Homo sapiens: one gene and its partner. The protein of the gene in region 1 interacts with the protein of each later gene in a pairwise test. Each region holds a gene or a part of one and is shown on either strand. Other genes may lie near its edges.

The links.
Region 2: the proteins of ZCCHC7 (region 1) and GIPC2 interact in binary tests that used the Homo sapiens proteins (3 or more experiments, as listed by UniProt).

What each region holds. Positions count from the first base shown.
Region 1 is NC_000009.12:37,354,370-37,358,985, reverse strand, and holds the end of ZCCHC7 (zinc finger CCHC domain-containing protein 7), read right to left. Parts: intron 4,277-4,616; coding exon 4,162-4,276; intron 2,152-4,161; coding exon 1,718-2,151; 3' UTR 837-1,717; downstream 1-836.
Region 2 is NC_000001.11:78,076,966-78,083,965, reverse strand, and holds part of GIPC2 (PDZ domain-containing protein GIPC2), read right to left. Parts: intron 3,292-7,000; coding exon 3,106-3,291; intron 1-3,105.

The DNA of each region.
Region 1 (4,616 bases):
CTCCTTCTCCAAACAATCTGCTATGTACGAAAGAACCTAAAGAACGTCAATCCTATTTCTGCCCTGAAAGGAGATGCCTTAGGATCAGAAGGGGTACTTGTTATACCATATGAGTAATAAGCCATGTTTGCCTCAAGTCCTACTGGAGAATAATGCCAATTATCTCAAGGTTTTCCACTTCCATGAAACTTTTTTTATGGCTGCCACATTTAGCAAGTTGTTAAAAAAAAAACCCTGGTTGCTTACTTTAGGGTGAAAACAACTCTAGCTATTAGGAAGCTATGCATCAACATATAATAAAGTTAGCTGAAATCTATGCAGCAACAGGGAAAGTGGTAGACTAAACTCTGTGATCCTACAATTTGCACTAGCACTGATTTGAGAGGACAGAATTCTTCCTTCCTCTCAGAAAGATGAGAGATGATTCTGCCAGAAATACAGGAATCTGCATACTTCCCAAAGAGTAAAATACAAATTTAAGAACCTGACATTATAAAATTGTCCTATTTAATTGATTTCATACCATTTTATTCTGGCAGAGAGCTTGCACTTGGGCAAAAATGGCATTTTTGACTCCAGTCTACAGGGATTTTATAACTTTATCCACCTGCCCAACACAACTATGCCAAGGCCGGGAGTGATGGCTCATGCCTGTAATCCCAGCACTTTGGGAGGCCAAGGAAAGAGGATCACTTGAGCTCAGGAGTTTGAGACCTGCCTAGACAACACAGTGAGACCTTGTCTCTACAACAAACAAACAAACAAACAAAATAAACATTAACTATGCTCTTTGTCACTCAAACTCTCATTGTCTTTTTACATAATAAACACATGTATTTACTCTCAGATATTTTATTTTTCTTAGTCTGACATTAGGTTATGAGAAGTACAAAAGATCCACAAGTACAAAAAAATCTGTATAGCTTTGCGGTAGTTGAAAAAAATGCAAGAGAACAAAAAAATTTTTTGAGTAATATTCATCTCTGCAGATCTGAGTGACAGTCCGCTTGAAACACCGCTGTAAAAGTGGTAAAAAATGATTTCATTGTGATTATGTTAAAATTTTTGATGTCTCTTTTACTTGTTTAGGAAATCTGTCTTCTGACATTTATACTGGATAGTTCTTTTCCTGTATTTTGCTGAAGCTCAATTCCCTGCCTCTTCAGGGCTTCAATGATGACACTTTTGTTTTTATAGTCAGCTAGTGATGTTTTGTCCAAAGGAAGATTCTGACAACAGCTTCAGCAGAAAGAAAATCTGGATATAGGTTTATAGTTATTGTCCTTTCCAAAGTAAAAAAAAAAAAAAAAAAAGTTGAAAAATATTGATGACTTTTTCTTAGTGTTAATTTCTCTTCCTGCAAGGATTTAATTTGAGGATAAATTACCTTTGATGCAGTTTTTTTCCCAAAGTATTTTTAAAACACTTTCTTGAAAAGATGAATTCTTCTACCTATCCCTAGGATTCTGAGTAAAGATGACATATTGGAATAGGAGAAGTCCAGGTTTATCTTTGTACTTTCTTACCTAATATCCTGTTGGACACAGAGAATTGAGATCTCCATGGATATTCAGTAACTCTAGGAATGGCTGAAATTAAAAAAACAAAACCAAAAACTCACTTTATTTAATCATAGATAATAAACACAGTGCCAGAAGGTTATAGACACAAAGGCCAAATGAACAATGAAAAGCCACATCAGAGGCTGCCTGACGGCTTAAGACTTTTTTTTTCTCTGCTTAATAAGAAATAAGTTATCATTGTCATCATCTTCCCAGCACCTCTCCTTTTTCTTCTGCTTGCCCCTCTTGCCTTCCTTGGGAGACTTGTCTTCTCTTGACGTGTGGTAATGTGATGAACGGTGAAAGGGCTTAGAAGGCTTCTGGGTTTTAAAACTGCCAGGAGAAGAGTAGGTTTTGGGGCCCCTGGGAAAATCCTCATCCACTTCACGATGTCTGTCAGCCTTCCTGTGCTTCTCCCAGTTTCTATTCTTGTTCTTCATTTCTTTTTGTGTTTCTTTATTTTCTTGAGGCCACCTGTTGCTTTTCCATGAGGCACGGCCCTTCCTTATATCATGGTGGGGGTTCTCATTTGCTGCTTTTATATAAGGTAGCTTGGATGGCTCTGGGATAACCCCATTTTTCTTGAGTACTGAAAAATATAAAAGTATTTTTGCATATTCAGCAGCTAAACAGTCCATGCTGAGCTTTCCTAAGTGTAAATAACTTAACAGACAGGGAAGCTAGATATTTAAACATGTTAACAGTATGACATCACTCACTAAAAATTAAATAGTTGTAGCTCCAAGTTTCTGATTGCTAAAAATGAAACACATTCAGAAATCCAATGATAGTTAATTATCCTTTTCAACAGTTTAACAAGGTTAAGCAATGGAGATGAGGACCTGTAAGAACAGTAATCATCTTAGCTTTGTGAAGAAAAGTCATGTCTGACCAATACGAGTTTCCCCAATGATGACGAGTCAGCCTTTGAAAATGAGGCAAAGCAAGATTTATAAAATGGCCTTTTGATGGTCTCATATGACATTTCAACCACCCTCTAAAGATAAGGCCTGGCCATAGTACTTTTAGGTGGATGCCAAACTGCCCAAGAGATTATTCCTCCAGGGTAGAGATCACTGGCTTTGAGGAGTGTGTGTGAGTGCACGTGAGTGCGGGTATCTTAGAGGTTTTAGTGATAAAGCTGATGTTAATGTTTTGTCAGAGCTTGACACGCTTAATACGGATCTCTGATAGTGATTCTGATACGGGTAGGTGGGAGATGAGGTTACAGTGAGAGATGAAAACTAGCAGTCAATAGAATCTTTAAAGATTAAAAAAGTGGCCAATAAAAACTTTTAGCATAGACTTTTATTATAAAAATTTCAAAGGATCATAGTGAACACCTCAAAGTGGATTTATGCTACAGACGTCGATACAACTAGCTAAAAAAAAACCAAAATGGGTTTTCTCTAATTATAAGTTATAACTGCTCATTATAGAAAACCTGGAAAAAACAGAAAAGTACAAAGAACATAAAAAACAGAAAGCACATATAATCCTTTAATCTAGAGATGACATTTTCATGCAATTCTTTTTAATCTCTAATTTGGTTGCCTAATCATAATCTACAACTACTATAACTTCTCCACACAGCTGACCCTTGCACAATGAGTTTGAACTACGTGGGTCCACTTAAATGTGGATTTTTTCAACCAAATGAGGATTGAAAATACACCATTCCACAGATTAGAAACTTGTGTATACGAACGGCTACTTTTTCCTATAATCAGGTTCTGCAGAGTCAACTATGGGACATAAGTAAGTGCAGATTTTGGTAAATGAGGAGGCTCCTGGAACCAATATCCAGGGATAGCTGTAGATGACATACATTTTATATTAAATATGTAAAATATGCAGGAGCTGGGAGAGTAATAACTCTATTTTCCTCAGAATTAGTACCTTCATTTTGGAAAGGTCCTGAACTAAGAATCCAGAAGAGTAAAAGGCCAAAAGAGTCAGAAAATAAGGTATAGAACAAACTAAAAAAATACAGAACTGTTTTGTTTTTAAAGCAAGAAAGATAACTTGGAAAACCACCTTGAAGTGAATAACAAGAAAGAACAGAGGTAGAGAAAACTTAAATGATAAGATATTAATTTGGTGATAAAGAACAATGTTTGCAACAGTAAGTACAGAAACCACAGAGGTGGTTGTGAACTTGGAGCTCTGCTTGCAGCGGTGGCCTCTAACAAATGACTTCTTCAGGGAAGCTCCAGGAATAACTTAGCAGGAAAGCCTTTCTTTCCATAAAAAAATACTGGAGAAATACAAATGGAAAAAAAAATAATTACCTGTCAAACAGAAAAATCTCAAAGGAGCCTTTAAAAACTCTGCCTATATAGATGGACAGCAATATTTTCTGGACATTTCCTAAAATGATCACTGTAAAAAAATGTTTACTGTGAGGAGATTGCAACATGGGATTATTTCTGAAGTGGGTGCTTGGTTTCTGGAGATCAAGAAAGTTCCAGTCTCTTTGGTAATTACTAAAAATACTTTCTATGCTAACCAATGACCCCCAAAGCAGGCAAAGACAGTACAAACAAAGAAATTTAGAAACTACTGCAAATGTGATCTAACAAGAAGTCTAGCAACATACCTTTTATTTTTTGTTTTAGTCTCTTTTCTCTCTCCTGAATTTCATATTTGTCATCATAGTAGCAGATGAATGGAGATACTGGAGACGGGTCATACACTTCTCTTTCTGGACATTCCTATAAATTGTATGTAAAATTATGATGTCACATGGTCACACTGTTCAAAAACCTTTTTGCAAGATTCTGGAGCATGTTAATTAGAAATGAGCCCCATGTCACTGGTACCTCATGTGGTGGCTGTAGGATATGGTCCTTGCTGGGGTGTTGGGAGGGTCACCCAGCCCTAAACCCCACTGTGTTATGATATTCTTTCAAGCTTGAGTTTTCTTCCCTTACTTCTTTACCTATGAAACCCTTCGTATCTTTTTTCAGCCTTTTCTGCCTAACTCCTTTCACAGTCTGAGGTAGCAGCCTTGCCGCTCTGTTAGTGGGTTTATGTTATTCGGCCTCATGTTAG
Region 2 (7,000 bases), on another chromosome or scaffold:
ATCAATCTCTAGTAAAAATCAGAGCTTCTGAGAGAAATAGTTGATTCTAGGTCAGGGGAAAAGGAGATACAAGATGGGTCTAGAATATCTTGTTGTGTTCTAGAAAGTAAGAACCTACTCAATAAAATGATAGGAGCCATGTCAAAAGGACATGGGGGCCCACTTACAGGGGTTCCTGCAGGCCAAGTCTCAGGAAATTTGAGCATCAATATAATTGATAGTAACAGACTATAAACCATTCAGTAAAACACGAAGTCATGTACCCATGTTGACAATAAATAAGGGCAGCTTTTTCCCTACCATAAAATGCTTTCAGAGAAACATATAAGGAGTGATGGAATTAGAAAAATCATCATTTTTTCAACCATTATAGGAAAAATTAATTCAGGTAAGACTCATCAACAGATACTAAATTTGTGCCATGCAAGTAAGAAAACAGGGTATTTTCATGATATCAAAGCATCTCTCCACAATTACGTATCACAAAGGAAAATAATTTTGTAGTGAAAAAGACTAGTGGACACTACCTCAGACAAGTGACAAAAGTTAATCTCACAAACAATGAGACAAACCAGTTTCATGTACCTTCTGATGTGGTGCACTGAGAAGGACACAGCATCACTTATGTAATTTTCCTACCAAAAATGCACAATCTATTTATCAACATGAGGAAACATCAGAAAAACCCAAATTCAGGGACATCCTATAAAAGGCTGAGGAACTATTCTAGATTAAGGAAGACTAAAAAGACATGACAACTATTCTAGATTATAAAGAAGACTAAAAAGACATAAATGAAATACAGGATCCTAAATTGGACCTGTATGAGGGGAAAATAATGAACACAATTAGGACGCTGATAAGACTACAATGTGAACTATAGATTAGTTTAAAAGTATTATATCAATATTAGACTGTATGAATTTCATAATTGTACTGTAGTTATATGTAAGAGAATATCCTTGTTCTTAGTAATTACACTCTGAAGTACTAAGGGGTAAAGAGTATATATATATATATGTGTGTGTATGAGACAGAACAAAAAACTCAAACATGGCAAATGGTAAAAATTGGAGATTTGGATAAATGATTTATGGGAGTTCTTTGTATTATTATTGCAATCTTTATGTAAGTTTGAAATTATCCTCTCCCAATTTTTAAAAAATTTCATCAACCATGTATACAGTATAATGTGCATCTCTCTTCTAAGTTGAACTATATGTTGGCAGTTTAGATTATGCCTTGCTTTCTCCTTTGCTAACATGCCCTATATCTCCACAGGGCTAGTGACTAGTACTCTGAGTCAGGCACATGTTTGACAAAGCATTTTTTAAAAAATAGAAAGACAAGCTCTGAATGTCAGAGGCTAAGATTTTAAAAATCCACACACGTTTGTGAAACTTCCAAGCCCTTCTCTGCTGCCTGTGCCTCATGTCCTGAGCTTCCCTTGGATAATCCCATATGACTTTCCCAGTCACAGATTTTCCATTTGGTCACTCACTCAACCTTCAGCACAGTCATATCTTTTGCAGAGCTAAAAATAGCCATTCTATCAAGTGGGTAGCGAAAGTCCCATTTACAGTTAAGAAGATAACTTCCCTAAGATTATTTAATGGTGACAATGCATCAGCAAATCAAGATTTGGACAAAATAAAGGCACAAAATATTCCCTGTTGCATGAAATCTATCATTAATTCTTAATCGAGTGAATAGAAGTGCCAGCTCTGAAGTCAGACCTCATAGATCCAAATCCTGAATGTGTCCAGCTGTATAACTTTGGGCAAGCTACTTAACCTTCCTGAGCCTGTTTCCACATCTGTAAAATAAGGTTGGAAATAGTACCTATCCATGGATCTCATAGGCATCTTTTTGAGCAAAAGAAGCCGAAAATAGTGGAGTATATAATATATGATTATATGAAGTTCATGGCAATAGATGCCAGAATAATGGCTACTTTGCGGGGAAAGATTATTGACTGGGAAGGGGCACAAATGAGCCTTCTGAGTGGCAGAAATGCAATTTATCCTGATCTGGGTGATGGTTAAACAGGGATAAGTATGTAAACATTCATTAAGCTGTACATTAAAAATGTCTTATACTGCAACAAAAAAATAAATACAAAGAAAAAACATAATACCAACCAAATAGAATTGTGAGAATTAAGTGAGAAATTGTATGCAAAGTGCCTAGTACATGCATTCAATATAAGTCTGTTACTATTATAACTATTACAATAATAGAGTTGTTATTTTTAAGAGATGAGACTACCTTTCTCCTCAGTTCTTAGTTTCACACCATTTCAAACTTTTATCTTGCCTTTGAAGCTCTATATCGCTCTCTTTGTATTTGAATAAAGGAATTACAGTTGGCCCTGGGTATCCATGGGGGATTGGTTCCAGGACACACCATCAATACTAAAATTCCACTGATGTTCAAGTCCCTGGTATAAAATGGTGTAGTATTTGCATATAACCTATCCACATCCTTCTATATACTTTAAATCATCTCTAGATTATAATACCTAACACAATGGCAATGCTACATAAGCAGTTGTACTGTATTGTTTAGGAAATAATGACAAGTAAAAAGGCCATACATGTTCAGTACAGATGCCATTTTTTCAACTACCTTTAATCTGTGGTTGGTTGAATCCACTAATACAGAACCTACAGATACAGAGATCCAACTTTATATACTTCCTAAAATTTTGAAGGGCATTTTTAAAGAAGTAAATAAGGCAGTCAAAACTAGGAACAGTTGGAAAATAACACTAATTCAATGGAAATAAGCCAGAAATTCATCAGATGTTAAAACCTACAGACATGGAAAAGCTTATATGGATAATGAGTAGGCACCAGGGTTAGACTTTCCTTTCAGTTAGTTCTAAATTCTAGGGGAAGTTTAAACTAAAGGGAAGAAATTAAGAAAATAGTAAACACAAACTGACATCTGAACATTTTTAAAATGAAAGTGAAACATTACCAATTCATGCATCCTTGCTGAGCGGGCTCTCACTCTGAAGATCATTTCTAACTTTCTTTGGCCTGGTAGATTTTCTTAAATGTTATCCTCAATTAGGTTACACTGTTATTTTTTAAAACTTACCTTTATAAAAGCATAGCCAACACCATTATCTGTAATGGTGAGACCAAGTGAATCCTCAGATTTATACACATTCACTTCTTTTTCGATTCCTTTCACATGGGCAAATATGAAATCTTCTAGTCCTAGTTGTCCTCCTAAGAGTCTTTCCATGTCAATTTTAGGTGTGTTTAAAGTGCAATATAAGATCTGCAAAGAAAAATAAAATGTCAGGTCCATTTCCACTTGGAATACATCTGACCGTTAATTTATTTATAAACATTTATTGACTGAAATACTCCTCAATTTATGATGTAAAGAGTTACATCATAAAATGTGTTTTTATGTTGGCTAGAGAGATTCTGGGACACATTTTCAGACAGTAGCATTAGGTAACATGTATTGAGGGTTTCCTGTAGGCCAGGCTTCACGCTAGACAATTTACATCCCATTATCTCACTTCATCTTTACAGTAACTTTATAAAGGACATTGGTATCACCATATTACAAATGAGGAAACTGAAGCCTGGTAAAAATAAGTAATTTGCCTAAGGTCACACAGCCAGTACTTGTCAGAGCCAAGGATTTGAGTTCAGGTCTCACCCATTTTAAAGTGGTTTCTGCCAAGGGACCTGACATTTTATAATGCTGAAATCAAAGGTTATAGTCCCAAAGGTCTGCATCATGCATACACTACAATTAAAATATAGGCAAGCCTATATTTGAAAGTTGGTAAATACATTTTTAAATATAGACAATTTTATTTATCTTGCATTATAGTGCCTGAAAAAAAGCAATTTATTTAGTGAATGAGGTGTTAAAATCAGTATGTTTTAGAACTAAAATGGACTTTAAAGACTATTAACCCAATTTAAAAAGGGGGGAGGGGGGCCATGGAATTGGGGTCTGGAGATTTTAAAACAACTTGTACCAATTCATGTGACAGTAAAAAGAGAGCAAAAAAGAAACCAAATGGTGAAAAGTTGTGTGGAGATTTCAAAGGGGCTTTTTATGTTTACCAAGTCTTTATTTGACCTCATTTTCCTTCAAAAATATGACTCACTTGACTAAAATGTGCAGTGCTACTCAAGTTTGTCAACCATAATCTGGGTAACTTGTGGGGCCCAAATTATAGAAGAAGAGAAGCAGGGTTGAAAAGGTATCATCGGTTAAGAAGCTAAGTTCAACAAACATGTACTGAGTAGCTTCTATTTAATAAGCCAGAAAGGGCATTTTAATATGGCTGTTTCATGCCGAAATCACTAAATGAAATTTATCAGATAATGTCCACCACAGGCATTGCAAGCCTCTTCCTCCATCCCGGATCCTTACCTCAGGCCTCACTCTCAACCCTCTCCCAGTATCCTGGAGTTTCACACCAGTCCTAATTCCTAACAGAACCTTGATTGAGCCTTAACACATCCATAACCTGCATCCCACTCAGAAATAGGGTGCATTTACTACTTACTGAATGGCTTTTTAGGCCATGTCAAAATGTGTCTGAATCAGAAGAGCTTCATAAAATAAAGCTGTCCCTGCTATACAATCAAAGGTCAAGAGTGTTCAGCCAAGCTCAGAGCAAATCCCAGAGGTGTGTTAAAGGAGCTAGTGATGAGGACAAAAAAAAATGCCACTGGCTACAAAACAGTGAATGCCTACAGGAAACAACTATGGCCCCCCAACTTGTCCTCTTTTCATCCCAGTCTTTGTTGAGCCTTCAATTTAACCCTTTATGTTCCCGGCAAGGGCAAAATACATTCAGCTTTGTAGATAATAAGTTTTTGCACATATTCTCTAGTGTAAAAATGATATTGTTCTCAGGGGGAAAAAAATCGGTTAAGTCAAGAATGGTGCATATTTCTGATCCTAACTGTAAAATCAATGGCATATTAGTTTGCTGACAAAAATCACTGTGAATGGGTTGAGGGAGAAGGGAGTATGTGTAGAAAACAGCTTTTCTGACTCTCCTTCACAAAATGATGGGAAGTAAGTAGAAGAAACAACATTTTTCTCCTCCTTGGTTTGTTGTTTTTTTTTTTTTTTTTTCCGGTGAATCTGTCCATGGTATTCACAGTGGGTCCCAAACACCAATATAAAAGCAATTTACCCATTAGCTAGGAAAAAAAAAATTAAAATACCATGATGGTATAACAGGATAGAGAAAAACAAAAAGGAAAAAAAGGAAATCTCACACAAACTGAACTTCTAATGACCAAGCCTCTTCCTTTGCTTCCTTTCTTTCAACTTTTCGCATGCTTCACTACAAAGCAAACATTAGATTTCCTGCAGGTAGAAGAACCCTTTTCCATCGTGCTTCCTCCCGTGCAGAATAACATTCCATTCTAGACAGCCAAAAGTTGGCAAGCAGGGCATTAGTTTCTTTTTTCTGTAAGGAATGGAGCCAGCTATATCTTTCAGTGAATGGAACTTCATGGGAAGCTGTGTTGAAAACCTGTAGGAATGTGATAGCCACTGCAAGGTGGAATAAGAGCAGCAGGTAACTAAAGCTCCATGACTTCAGATCAGTTCTTCACGGGAGAATAAGAAGCTATCACAGTATCAATGCACAACTATCAGCAAATATACCTCTAAGTATATGATAAAGGTCTAGAAATTCAAGCATCCTCAAAGATTTTATATTTTGAACTGCAAAATAAGAAAGTGATACACTAGGTTTTTTTTTTTTTTTTTTTTTTTGAGATGGAGTCTCGCTCTGTCGCCCAGGCTGGAGTGCAGTGGCGGGATCTCGGCTCACTGCAAGCTCCGCCTCCCGGGTTCACGCCATTCTCCTGCCTCAGCCTCCCAAGTAGCTGGGACTACAGGCGCCCGCCACTACGCCCGGCTAATTTTTTGTATTTTTAGTAGAGACGGGGTTTCACCGTTTTAGCCGGGATGGTCTCGATCTCCTGACCTCGTGATCCGCCCGCCTCGGCCTCCCAAAGTGCTGGGATTACAGGCGTGAGCCACCGCGCCCGGCCGTGATACACTAGTTTCTAAAGAATGCAAAGTTCCTGCTCATTCACTCATCAAAAGATAATGAACATTTAAGTCAGAAGGAACCTTAAGAAGCTACTGTGAGCTTTCATACCCTCACTCATACTCATATGAAAACAATAAAACTAACAGTGAAGTGGCCATATTATCAATGCTCCTCTAAGAAATATTTGCTTCCAGAATCTAAGTACGCTACACAACAGGCAGTGAAAGGCAGCATTTAACTTTTTTTTAAAATATAACACTCTCTGACGGACAAACTAAACTAAATCAAAAAAGATTTGGAAAGTAAACTCGTAACAAGGTATCACACAACGTAAGGAAAATGACTGATTCAGTAGATATAATCTTAATGATGTTTTTCATTGTACAATGAAATCCTTAACACCTTCTGGGGTAATCTGTATTTGTTGCTTTACTGCCATCATTGCCTATTTCCATAACTGATGGAGTACCCATGACTATTTCATTTTCTAGAGCATCACTGCCCAATAGAAATACAATGTAAGCTAAATAATTTTAAATTTTCTAATAGTCACAGTAACAAAAGTAAGAAGAAATAGCTGAATTAATTTAATTTAAAACTATATAACCCAGTATATCCAAAATATTGTCATTTCAGCCTATAATCAATGTAAAAATTATTAAGATGGTTTTCATTTTTTAAATTAAGTTTTTAAGATCCAGCATGTATTTACCCTTACATCTTGTCTCAATTTGGAAGAACCAGCTACATTTAAAGTTCTCAGTATCCAAATTCGGCTAGTGGTTACAACATTGGGCAGTTCAGCTTTAGAATCTCATGTCTTTAGGCTGGGCGCAGTGACTCACACCTGTAATCCCAGGCTTTGGGATTACTTTGGGAGGCTGAGGCAGGCAGATCACCTAAGGTCAGGAGTTCGAGACTAGCCTGGCCAACATGGTG